Homo sapiens: one gene and its partner. The protein of the gene in region 1 binds, or shares a complex with, the protein of each later gene. Links are inferred from orthologs where the notes say so. Each region holds a gene or a part of one and is shown on either strand. Other genes may lie near its edges. The genes, in order: CPLANE2 and FUZ.

What was found.
Region 2: the proteins of CPLANE2 (region 1) and FUZ are in contact, whole or in part, in a cryo-EM structure (PDB 7Q3E), measured with the Mus musculus proteins. The link is inferred for Homo sapiens from one-to-one orthologs. Residues at the interface, in NP_001074643.1 of Mus musculus: Glu36, Gly38, Leu39, Leu40, Glu41, Arg42, Val83, His84, His85, Glu86, Thr88, Gly89, Ile90, Gln91, Thr92, Thr93, Val94, Lys124, Phe125, Met128, Glu134; in NP_081652.2 of Mus musculus: Arg26, Arg35, Ile109, Val110, Lys126, Glu127, Arg129, Ala130, Tyr132, Cys133, Asp136, Gln215, Ala216, Ala217, Arg218, Asp219, Tyr220, Pro221, Tyr223, Pro232, Leu238, Thr239, Leu240, Leu241, Arg242, Pro255, Leu256, Gly257, Gln258, Pro261.

Annotation. Positions count from the first base shown.
Region 1 is NC_000001.11:16,233,909-16,241,110, forward strand, and holds the start of CPLANE2 (ciliogenesis and planar polarity effector 2), read right to left. Parts: upstream 3,276-7,202; 5' UTR 2,835-3,275; coding exon 2,723-2,834; intron 1-2,722. UniProt on the Homo sapiens protein: Required for efficient primary cilia initiation, regulating a late step in cilia initiation. Plays a role in the final maturation of the mother centriole and ciliary vesicle that allows extension of the ciliary axoneme.
Region 2 is NC_000019.10:49,806,142-49,810,353, reverse strand, and holds the end of FUZ (protein fuzzy homolog), read left to right. Parts: exon of another isoform or gene 1-778; coding exon 779-976; exon of another isoform or gene 977-1,041; intron 1,042-1,095; coding exon 1,096-1,191; intron 1,192-1,327; exon of another isoform or gene 1,328-1,434; intron 1,435-1,530; coding exon 1,531-1,637; intron 1,638-1,715; coding exon 1,716-1,780; intron 1,781-1,862; coding exon of another isoform or gene 1,863-1,865; coding exon 1,866-1,940; intron 1,941-2,194; coding exon of another isoform or gene 2,195-2,220; exon of another isoform or gene 2,221-2,239; intron 2,240-2,643; exon of another isoform or gene 2,644-2,784; intron 2,785-2,958; exon of another isoform or gene 2,959-2,979; coding exon 2,980-3,203; 3' UTR 3,204-3,488; downstream 3,489-4,212. Other genes in the region: AP2A1 (AP-2 complex subunit alpha-1), read right to left, coding at 3,596-3,673, 4,101-4,212. UniProt on the Homo sapiens protein: Probable planar cell polarity effector involved in cilium biogenesis. May regulate protein and membrane transport to the cilium.

The DNA of each region.
Region 1 (7,202 bases):
ATGGATTAATGTTGTTATTGAGGGAGTGGGTTTGTTATAAAAGCCAGTTTGGGCGCCTCTTGCTGTCTTGCTGTTGCCCTTCTGCCTTCTGCCACGGGATGACACAGCATGAAGGCCCTTTCCAGATGCTGCTGCCATGTTCTTAGACTTCCCAGCCTCCAGAACCATGAGCCAAATAAGCTTCTGTTCATTATAAATTACACAGAGGAGGCCTGGTGCGGTGGCTTACACCTGTAATCCCAGCACTTTGGGAGGCCAAGGCGGGCAGATCACCTGAGGTCAGGAGTTCGAGACCAGCCTGGCCAACATGGTGAAACTCCATCTCTACAAAAAAAAATACCAAAAATCAGCTGGGTGTGGTGGTGGGTGCCTATAATCCCAGCTTCTTGGGAGGCTGAGGCAGGAGAACTGCTTGAACCTGGGAGGTGGAAGTTGCTAAGCCGAGATCACACCACTGCACTCCAGCCTGGGCGACAGAGCGAGACTTTGTCTCAAAAAATAAATAAATAAATAACTTAGAGTGTGGTATTCTGTTGTAGCAGCATAAAATGGACTAAGACGCGGGTAAATCCTGCACTTGCCCCATCAGATCCTGGGCTGGACAGTCTCACTTATTTATTTTTACTTTTTTTCTTTACCTTCTATTTTTAATACGGATGGGGTCTCACTATGTTGCTCAGGCTGGTCTTGAGCTCCTGGGCTCAAGCAATCCTCCCACCTTGGCCTCCGAAAGTGCTGGGACTACAAGGCATGAGCCACCACATACAGCCAAGGACAACCTCATTTCTAATGGCTTCTTCAGGGCTAACCAACCATCTGTGGTTCTTTTTTGTTTTTTTTTGAGACGGAGTTTCGCTTTTGTTGCCCAGGCTGGAGTGCAATGGTGTGATCTCACTGCAACTTCCGCCTCCCGGGTTCAAGTGATTCTCCTGCCTCAGCCTCCCGAGTAGCTGGGATTATAGGCATGCGCCACCATGCCTGGCTAATTTTGTATTTTTAGAGATGGGGTTTCTCCATGTTGGTCAGGCTGGTCTCGAACTCCCAACCTCAGGTGATCTGCCTGCCTCAGCCTCCCAAAGTGCTGGGATTACAGGCGTGAGCCACCGTGCCCGGCCTCATCTGTGGCTCTTAATACTCAACCTAATTTTACAGAAGTCTGGGATACAAAGAGACTAGCCTAAGCATTATAGTCAGTCTGTTGATATTTATTTACTAGCTGCTCTCAGCGTTTGTTGTGGGGCCTGCATGACAACCACTGAATGATACATTCAGGTGCATAAACCCAGCTGTTAAAAAAAAACCCAAATGTCTGCAGTTAAAGTAAAAACACAAAAATTAAAAGCCATCACTGCCATTCCTCTAAGTTATGGCTGCTTAATCCTATCTGTGGCATAGATAATATGGTCAGTGGATTCTATGATGTTCCCAGAAAATCAGCTCAACCTTCACTCAATTCTCTTCCACTCAACACAACTAAATGCAAAATAAATACAATAACAGCCAACCTTCAGTGAACACCCACTGCATGCCAGAACCTGCTTGGTATGTTACAAACACCCTCCTTATTAATTTCCCCAGTAACTCTATGGGGTAAATACTGTGATTATCCCCATTTTACAGAGGTGGGACTTGAGGCTAGAGTTCACTTATTCCCAGCCATACAGCTAGCAGTGGTGGAGCCTGGGTCACTTGCCTGGGTATGTGTGACCCCAAATACAGTGTTGCCAGCCATCATGGGATTAGAGGGACAGTGGCCATATTAGAGGGTCTTTTTTTTTTTTTTTTTTTTGAGACGGAGTTTCACTCTTGTCACCCAGGATGGAATGCAATGGCTCGATCTAGGGTTGCTGCAACCTCTGCCTTCTGTGTTCAAGCGATTCTCCTGCCTCAGCCTCCCAAGTAGCTGGGATTACAGGTGCCCGCCACCACGTCCGGCTAATTTTTGTATTTTTAGTAAAGATGGGGTTTCGCCATGTTGGCCAGGCTGGTCTTGAACTCCTGACCTCAGGTGATTTGCCCACCTCGGCCTCCCAAAGTGCTGGGATTACAGGCCACTGCGCCCAGCCTTCTAGAGGGTCATTTTTTGAATTTAATATAATTTCTTTTAAAAAAACAAACAAACAGTTGACTTATTCACAAATTTTGGTTCTAGCTATCTCACTCTCTGGTCTTAAGTCTTCTGGCACCTTGCTTCTCCTGGCCAGAGCTGGGCTCCACAGCTGATTCCAGGCACCTCTGCCGGCCTGACAGCTGGGCCCTGCCTGGGTGAGTCAGTTTCACCATGGGGAACACCAGCGTCTCATCCCAGAGACAGCAGGACATGGAAGAGGCTCACCTCTATTTATTGGGGTGTGATCTTAGCCAAGTCTGTACCATGTGCTGTTGAGAGGTTAAATGGGCGTGCACTGTGTAACGTGCCCAACAGAGGGCCTGGCACCAGGGGAGTGCTCAATCAACTGCATCTCTGGTGACAGTGGTTGCTGGCAAGGTTTCTGCTGTTTCCATGTTCCTGGCTCTGACGATGGAATTAGCTCTAAGGAGATTTAGGTGTGGGGGTCCCAGAGCTAGGGCTTTCAGTCCCCCAGGCTGAAGACTGCTGAAGACTGCAGTGGAGCAGGCCCTCACTGCCCTGCCTCTCTGCTCTCCTCAGGGAGCAACAGGTGACACTCTTCTCCCCAGGGAAAGACAAGTGGCGGGCTAGAGGAAAGGGGGAGGCACTTACCAAACACCCGCCGGCGGTTCTTGCGCAGAATGCAAGCCAGGTACTCCTTGCCCTCGGCACTCTCGTGCCAGTTTGGGACAACCACCGAACCGGGCACGGGAGGTCTGGCCATGGCTGGGCACCGCGACGGGGTAGGGAGGTGACAGAATGCTGAGAGCAGGGAGTGGGAAGGGGAGTGACAGTACCAAGCCGGGCCTGTGATCCCTCTTAACTGCCCTCTGACTCTCCCGGGGGGCCCCAGAAAGTGCAGTCCCTCAGCCGCCTCTCTCCTTCGCAATGCTCCCTGGGGATAGTCATCCCATTACTGCCCATGGAGGGTATTCACACAGCCCCTCTCCCCTTGTCACCTCCGGGGGTCAGACAGCCCCGCTTCTCCTCTACCTTCTAGATCCCGACTCCCAGGGCTACCTAGCCCTCCCCGTCAGCAGTCCCGGCGGCGAACCGACCTGGGTGCCGAAGGCCCCTTTAAACGCCCACCCGCACTCCCGCCGCCCCAGCCCGCCGGGCCCACTTCCGCCCCGCCTGCGTCCGCCTTCTGCGCGTGCTGGCAGCTCCGGCGCAGGTGCGCGCGGCGCATGTGCGGAGGTTGTTGCCATGGAGACGCCGGAGGTTGGGTTGGGCGGGTTCCGGGAGGCGTTCGTCCCTCCTACAACGTCCGCAGCCTGCGCCGCGCGGTGGCTCTGGACTAGGCCTTTTCCTCTGGGTTGTGGATCCTCTTCTCTATGACTCCGTCCGATCCCTAGTCTTTCTTCCAAAACATCATGAAACCCCCCCTCCAGGAGCCTTTCATGCTTCTCTGTGTCTCAGTTTCCTCTTCTATAACGTGGACGTAACATGTTATTCCCTCCATAGCAGTGCTCCATATGTTTAGTTATGATTGTTGCTATTATTAATATTATTGCTCTATTAATCCTGCTTGGCAGGACCTCTAGATGACTTAAACATCTCTGGCTTCACTGATGGGGACACACACCAGCTCAGAGAGGTCAAGGGACTTGGCTCAAGTTTTAAAAAATGAGTCAGAGGCCCGCTGGATTGTATTTTTCATTCATTCATTCATTCAACAAATACTGAGCACCTAGCTGGGAATACAGTGGCCAACAAGAAGTCCCTGCTCTCCTGGAGCTGACTTTTCAGCTCTGAAACTCTGAGCTCCTCTCCACCGTTCCAGCACTGGACACCAGGCCTGTTACCCAGAAGGTGGGTGCTCAGTAAATGCCCACTGGTTGGAAAGAGTGCAGGTGGGTCATTACTGAGAGTTTGTCTATTACATTTAATTTTTACCATTATCTTTCCGCAATGCCTTCAAGTAGGGCAAATCACTGTTTTGAAAGGAATAATTTAGGAGTTAAGCTTTACCTAAGGCCACCCAAGTGCCAGACAGTGGGGACTTTACAGGGGTCACCTGATTTAATTCTATAAACAAACCTGTGTAAATAGTATTACCCTCTTGTACTGACGAAGACTCTCAGAAACATAACGTGACTTGTCTGAGGTCACACCGCACAGCTAGTCAGTGTGAAACCGACTCAGAACCCACAGCTGGCTGGGTGTGGTGGCTCACGCCTGTAATCCCAGCACTTTGGGAAGCTGAGGCGGGCAGATTGCTTAAGCTCAGGAGTTTGAGACCAACCTGGGCAACATAGTAAGACCCTGCCTCTACAAAAAAAAAAATACAAAAATTAGCCGGGCACAGTAGTGCACGCCTGTAGTCCCAGCTACTTGGAGGCTGAGATGAGAGGATTGCTTGAGCCCGGGAAATGGAGGTTGCAGTGAGCCGAGATCATGCCACTGCACTTCAGCCTGAGTGACAGAGCTAGGCCCTGTCAAAAAAAAAAAAAAAAAAAAAAAAAGAACCCACACTTACCTGACTCTAAAGTACTTATCTGTTCTGCCAGTTTGGGTTTTGTGTTTTTAAAACTTTGCCCCTAGCCACTAGGAGGGCTGTTCCTAGGGAAGCAGAAAGCAGCCAGAGGACTACGAACTCACAGATTTTTAAGGCCCATTATGTCTAAGAGAGGGGATGAGGATGTGTAAGACAAGGTGCTTTCTCTCAACTTGCTCACGCTGTGGCTAGGCAGAAAAACCAGATGAATAACCATTCCTACAGGATTCTGCAGGTGGAATCCTTTGCCCATACTCCCAGGTCACATGGTTCCCATTCCTGCAGCTGTCACATCTGCCCAGTCAGGGAGATTCACAGCTGTCCAGAGCTCTCTCCATGGGCCAGGAGTCACTCAGTGGCAGGGCTCTGATCTGAATTATTTCTGGATTTCCAGACTTCACATCCACCCATCTTTGGCTCGTGGAGGGCTCAGTGAGCGTGTGAGAAAATGAAGCAACTTGGCAGAATGAACGTGCCTGTTAATCTGCAACCCAGAGAAGATGTAAAGTCCTCTTGGGGCCATGTGCGGTGGCTCACGCCTGTAATCCCAGCACTTTGGGAGGCTGAAGCTGGTGGACCACTTGAGGTCAGGAGTTTGAGACCAGCCTGGGTAACATGGCAAAACCTTATCCCTAAAAATATACAAAAAAATGGCTGGGCGCGGTGGCTCACGCCTGTAATCCCAGCACTTTGGGAGGCTGAGGCGGGCAAATCACCCGAGGTCAGGAGTTCAAGACCAGCCTGGCCAACATGGTGAACCCTGTCTCTACTAAAAATACAAAAATTATCTGGCTGTGATGGCAGGCGCCTGTAATCCCAGCTACTCTGGAGGTTGAGGCAGAAGAATCGCTTGAACCTGGGAGGTGGAGGTTGCAGTGAGCAGAATCATATCACTGCACTCCAGCCTGGGTGACAGAGCTGAATAAATAAAATTATGTATTCAGTGGAAGGCTGATCAAGGACTCAAAAGAATGCAATCTTTTGTCTCCTATCTACTTTTTTTTTTTTTGAGACAGAGTCTCACTCTGTCGCCCAGGCTGGAGTGCAGTGGCACAATCTCGGCTCACTGCAACCTCTGCCTCTGAGGTTCAAGTGATTCCCCTGCCTCAGCCTCCCAGGTAGCTGGGACTATAGGCATGCCCCACCATGTCCGGCTAATTTTTGTTGTTGTTGTATTTTAGTAGAGACGGGGTTTCACCATGTTGGCCAGGATGGTCTGGATCTCCTGACCTCATGATCCGCCCACCTCAGCCTTCCAAAGTGCTGGGATTATAGGCATGAGCCACTGCACCTGGCCTTGTCTCTTATGTATTTCTAACCTGGAAGCCCCTGCTTCAAGCTGTCCTGTCTTACCAGACCAAACCAATGTACATCTTACACATATTGATTGAGGTCTCATGTCTCCCTAAAACTTAAATGCAAACTGTACCCCTGACCACCTTGGGTATATGTCTCAGGATTTCCTGAGGCTGTCACGGGCACATCCTTAACCTTGGCAAAATAAACTTTCTAAATTGACTGTGACCTGTCTCAGATATTTGGGGTTCACACATCCAACCCCGACATTCTGTGTCAGGGGCTGGGTAGGTCTGTGAGCCTGCAGATTTGACAAAAGCACTAGGCAGTTCTGAAGTTGGGGTCTATATGAGTCAGCCCAGGCTGCTGTAACAAAAATACCACAGTCTGGGTACTCTAAACAACAGAAATTTATTTTCTCATAGTTCTAGAGGCTGGAAGTCCAAGATCAAGGTGCCAGCAGAGTTGGTTTCTGGGTGGGGCCTCTCTTCCTGGCTTACAGATGGCCTCTTCTCTGTGCTTATACATGTCTGGTGTCTCTTCCTCTGTTACAAATAGGACATTAGTCCTACTGGATTAGGGCTCCATGCTTATGGTCTCATTTAACCTTGATTACCTTTTTCTTTTATTTTTTGAGACAGGGCCTCACTCTGTCACCCAGGCTAGAGGGCAGTGGTGTGATCTCAGCTCACTGCAGCCACGACCTCCTCAGGCTCAAGCAATCCTCCTGCCTCAGCCCCGAGGGGAGCTAGGACTACAGGTGCATATCAGCACGCCTGGCTAATTTTTTTTTTTTTTGTATTTTTGTTTGTTTGTTTGAGACAAAGTCTCGCTCTTGTGCCCCAGGCTGGAGTGCAATGGCGCGATCTTTGCTCACTGCAACCTCCATCTCCCAGGTTCAAGTGATTCTCCTGCCTCAGCCTCCCAAGTAGCTGGGATTACAGGCGCCTGCCACCACACCCAGCTAATTTTTGTATTTTTAGTAGAGACGGGGTTCTACCATGTTGGCCAGGCTGGTCTTGAACTCCTGACCTCGGGTGATCCGCCCGCCTTGGCCTCCCAAAGTGCTGGGATTACAGGCATTAGCCACCATGCCCGGACTTTTTCTTTTGTATTTTTTTAGAGGTACGGTTTTGCCTTGTTGCCCAGGCTTGTCTCAAACTCCTGGCCTCAAGTGATCTGCCTGCCTTGGCCTCTGAAAGTGCTGGGATTACAGTCATCAGTCACCATGCTCACCCTTCATTACCTTTTTTTTTTTTTTTTTTTTTAGTCTAGATGAATTTATTGCCATTCACATAT
Region 2 (4,212 bases), on another chromosome or scaffold:
TTGGGGATGGGTTTCCATTAAGTTGCCCGGGCTGGTCTCGAACTCCTGGGCTCAAGCAGTCCTCCCGCCTCAGCCTCCCATAGTGCTGGGATGACAGGTGTGAGCCATCACACCCGGCCACCAGAAGAACCCTACTATATCCAGAGCTGGCTCTGCCCCTTTCCTGCTCACAGCCCTCCGGCAGCCTCCACCTCCCCCAGGACAAGGTCCCAGCTCCTCAGCCTGGTGTTTGAAGGCCTGTGGCACCTGGCACCCCCTAACCTGTTGCTAAATCCACAGTCTACTTCCACCCAGCTACCTCACAGTCCTGAGATCCCAACAAGTTTCCAACCTCAGTGCATGTTCTTCCTCCTGCCTCTCAGATCTCTAGCTACCTCTACTTAAATACTGCTCTTGTGGACTTGCCTGGTGTGGCGGCCTCCCAGGCATGTGACTCTCAGCAGGTGACTTGGCTTCTCTACGTTGCTAATGGTGCCTACTCGGCATGTAACAGGCCTGGATGAACGGTAGCTGCTGCGGTTACATTATTAGCTTCAGTTTGCCCGCCCAGGCTAGATGTTTAATCAGATTTCACAGACTTCACAGTGTGAGTTGGGGATGTGACTTCGTATGAAAGTGAAGGAACTCAGGCTCAGAGAGGGTGAGACGTAGGAGCATGGCCACTGCGCGAGCTCGGGGCTGGCTGTGGGTTTCTCCCCATTCCCTGCCCATCTGGGAAGTCGCTGCCACCCCCTACGCTTGTCTGCTGACTCCCAGTCCTCCTGCCTCCCGTACCCAGGAAGCCCTCTCCGGGTTCGCTGAGGCCGCGGGCACGACCTTCGTCAGTCTGGTGGTGTCCGGCCGGGTGGTGGCAGCAACAGAGGGTTGGTGGCGGCTGGGGACGCCCGAGGCCGTGCTGCTCCCCTGGCTGGTGGGGTCCCTGCCGCCGCAGACCGCTCGCGACTACCCGGTGTACCTGCCGCACGGGAGCCCCACGGTGAGTGGGTGGCGGGCACCGACGGAGGGATGTGACCTGGGGGCCGAGTCGCGAGGAGGCGGGATCTGCGATGGAAAGGGGCCGGGCCGCGATGAGCCCCAGCCTGTGCCCTGCTTCAGGTCCCACACCGGCTCCTGACCCTGACTCTGCTGCCGAGCCTGGAGCTGTGTCTACTCTGCGGGCCGAGCCCACCCCTCAGCCAGTTGTATCCACAGGTGAACCCGCGCCACGTCCCGCTTTCGCTCTTAGGACACCCGCTACCAGGAGGGCCCTTCCCCACCACCCTGCCCTGCCAGCGGCATCTTTCCCCAGCCCCGCCTCTTCTGGACTGCGCTCCAGTCATTCACCTACCCGCCAAGATCGGCCGCTCCCGCCTCTGCCTCTATTCTTCCAGGCCTCGCCCCTTCCCCAGTCCCTTCTGCCCTCCGCCCTCCACTCTTCTTGCAGGCCCCGCCCCTCCCGATTGACCACGCCCCTATCCTTGTACACCCCCCGACCTCCCCCGCCGGCCCCGCCTTCCCATGACGACCTCACAATGACCACGCCCCCTGCAGCTTCTGGAGCGCTGGTGGCAGCCACTGCTGGACCCGTTGCGGGCCTGTCTGCCGTTGGGACCCCGGGCGCTGCCCAGTGGCTTCCCCCTTCACACAGACATCCTCGGGTAGGGCTCGGATGGAGGGAGTGGGTCGGGGGTCATGTCCTCTTCCCCAGCCATGACATTCCCTTCCCTTTCCCACAGGCTGCTGCTCCTCCACCTGGAACTGAAGCGCTGCCTCTTCACCGTGGAGCCCTTGGGGGATAAAGGTGACTGAGGACAGGGGCAGGGGCAGGGGTAGGAGGGGCGTGGGCCGGGGAGGCGCTCTGCATCACCGCCTTTTCCTCCCAGCAGAGCCTTCACCAGAACAGCGCCGGCGCCTCCTCCGAAACTTCTATACCCTGGTCACCTCCACGCACTTCCCACCAGGTCAGCGGAAGGCACAGTGCTCCCACTGCGCAGGCGGGGACACTGAGTCCCAGGTCGCACAAAATGGGAGTAGGAGGTGGGGTTGGAGGATCCGGAGGAACCCAGTATGCACTGGGCCATAGGGCAGTGGTTTTCCTTGAGATCTGAGCATTGATGCAGATGGGAAGGGAGGGGAAGGGAGGTCCCCGCCTGGCTTCAGAATCTCCTGGATCATAGTCAACAATAGTTAACACTGAGACCTCACCTCTTCCCAGTGCCTTTACACGTAATGAAAGAATGAAATCACTTCATCCTCACAGGTGAGGACTATCCCATTACCTCATCATTCCCATATTACAGATGAGGAAACTGAGGCTCAGCTCATGAGTGGCAGAGCCATATTTGAACACAGGGGATCTTGCTCCCATATCCACACAGTCCAGCGCTCTGCACAACTGCCAAAAGCACAGGCTTTGCTGATAGGCTGAGGGTATGGAGGAGGATTTCACAAGATTCTGGGTTAGAACGGAAAAATTGTCGTAGAACCCTTAAGGGCCCAGAAAGACAAAGAAAGGGACCTGGGATGGCGCTGTGACCCCAGTGAAGCCCGGATGAATGCAGCACAGTGGTCAAGAGCTCCAACTCGGGGGCTGCACCCCTTCTTAGCTGTGCGACTCCACCTCCCACTGGCCCCTGCCTGTTTCCCTCCACCCGCCTTGTACAGTGGGGCGGGTGGGCTCCTGGAAAAGGCTACAGGAGCTCCTGTGTTGCTGCCGTGTTCGCCATGTGTATTGCTAAGAGGATCACCTGCAGCTGCACAGTTTCTCCAGGAAAATGGGGGCCAAGGCTGAGAAAGAGGAAGAGGGTGAGCTGAGTGACATCATTGTGGTCTTCAAGTTGCTGACAGCCAGCTAGAGCCCCGAGGCCCTCCCCTGGCAGGAGGCTCCCAAAACCTGTGTTCAGAGACCCCACGCGTTCAGAACTTGGGATCAGGATGTGGTGTGGCTTGCAAAGGTTAGCATGCTACTTGTCATGTCAGTGCCCCCTGTTCTTTCTCCAGAGCCAGGGCCACCAGAGAAGACAGAAGATGAGGTCTACCAGGCCCAGCTGCCCAGAGCTTGCTACCTGGTGTTGGGGACTGAGGAACCAGGCACAGGAGTGCGTCTGGTGGCCTTGCAGCTGGGGCTTCGGCGGCTGCTGCTGCTGCTGTCTCCCCAGAGTCCCACCCATGGGCTGCGAAGCCTGGCCACCCACACTCTGCATGCCCTCACCCCACTTCTTTGACTACCTAGCAGTGGGTGATGGACACAGACATGGGGCTGTTAGCGTCTCTCTGTTTATTCGCTCACAATAATACACAGCCCCTGGATGGGGAGGGGGTAGGAGGGGCTACAACAGGGTGGGGTGGGAGGGGAGGAGACATCCACTTCCCTGGCCCCTCTCCCCTCTGTGCTTGGGGGGGAAAGGGAGGGAGGGGGACTCCCCCTAACCCCCCAGAATGTAAACAGCAGCAGATGAACAAAAATAAAAATACAAAAGGCCGGAGGAAAGTCCCAGGCATCCCCCAAACCCTGGTGTCTTCTCTGTCACCAGTGGAGGTCCCCCATCCACCAAAACTGCCTCAGTCCAAGGGGCTGCCCAGTGCCGGCCACATCCCCCGGGGCAGAGTCCAGGGCTCAGAACTGCTGTGCCAGCAGCTCACACAGGTGACGGGAGACGGGCTCCTTGCTGGTGCGCAGGGTCAGCCGGTACATCTGGGTGGGGGCATTGGGGGCAGAACTCAGAGGAGATGGGGAGCCCAGGGAAGTCGGGACCCAAGGGAGATAGAAGGAAGGAAGGATAAAGGGGCCAGAAAGGTGATACAAGACACAGGAGAGAAAAATGTAAGACTGAAATCAACAGAGGCGCCAGAGAGGAAGAAAATTATAAAAGATGAGAGAAAGGTGGAAAGGATATGGAAAGGTAGAAATCAGGGAGGGACAGGAAGAGGAGAGGAACACCAGAGGTTGGAGACAGGAGATTAAACTGATAGATAAAGAGGAGTAAAAGTGGACAAAGAAATGTGAGAGGAGGAGGGTCAAAGTGGGGACGTGAATTAAAGAACAGTGAGGCAGGAAGGGTGGACGCAGAGATGACAGGCGGCCTTCCTGCCGGCCTCAGGCCTCCCACAGCAGCACTCACCTGGGCCTGGGCATTGGGCTCCAGCCGAAGCAGACAGCCCACCTGCAGGGCTTTAGTCTGGATGATCCCCGCCCCCACGAAGTTCTCAGGGTTGGGGTCCACATTGTCCAGG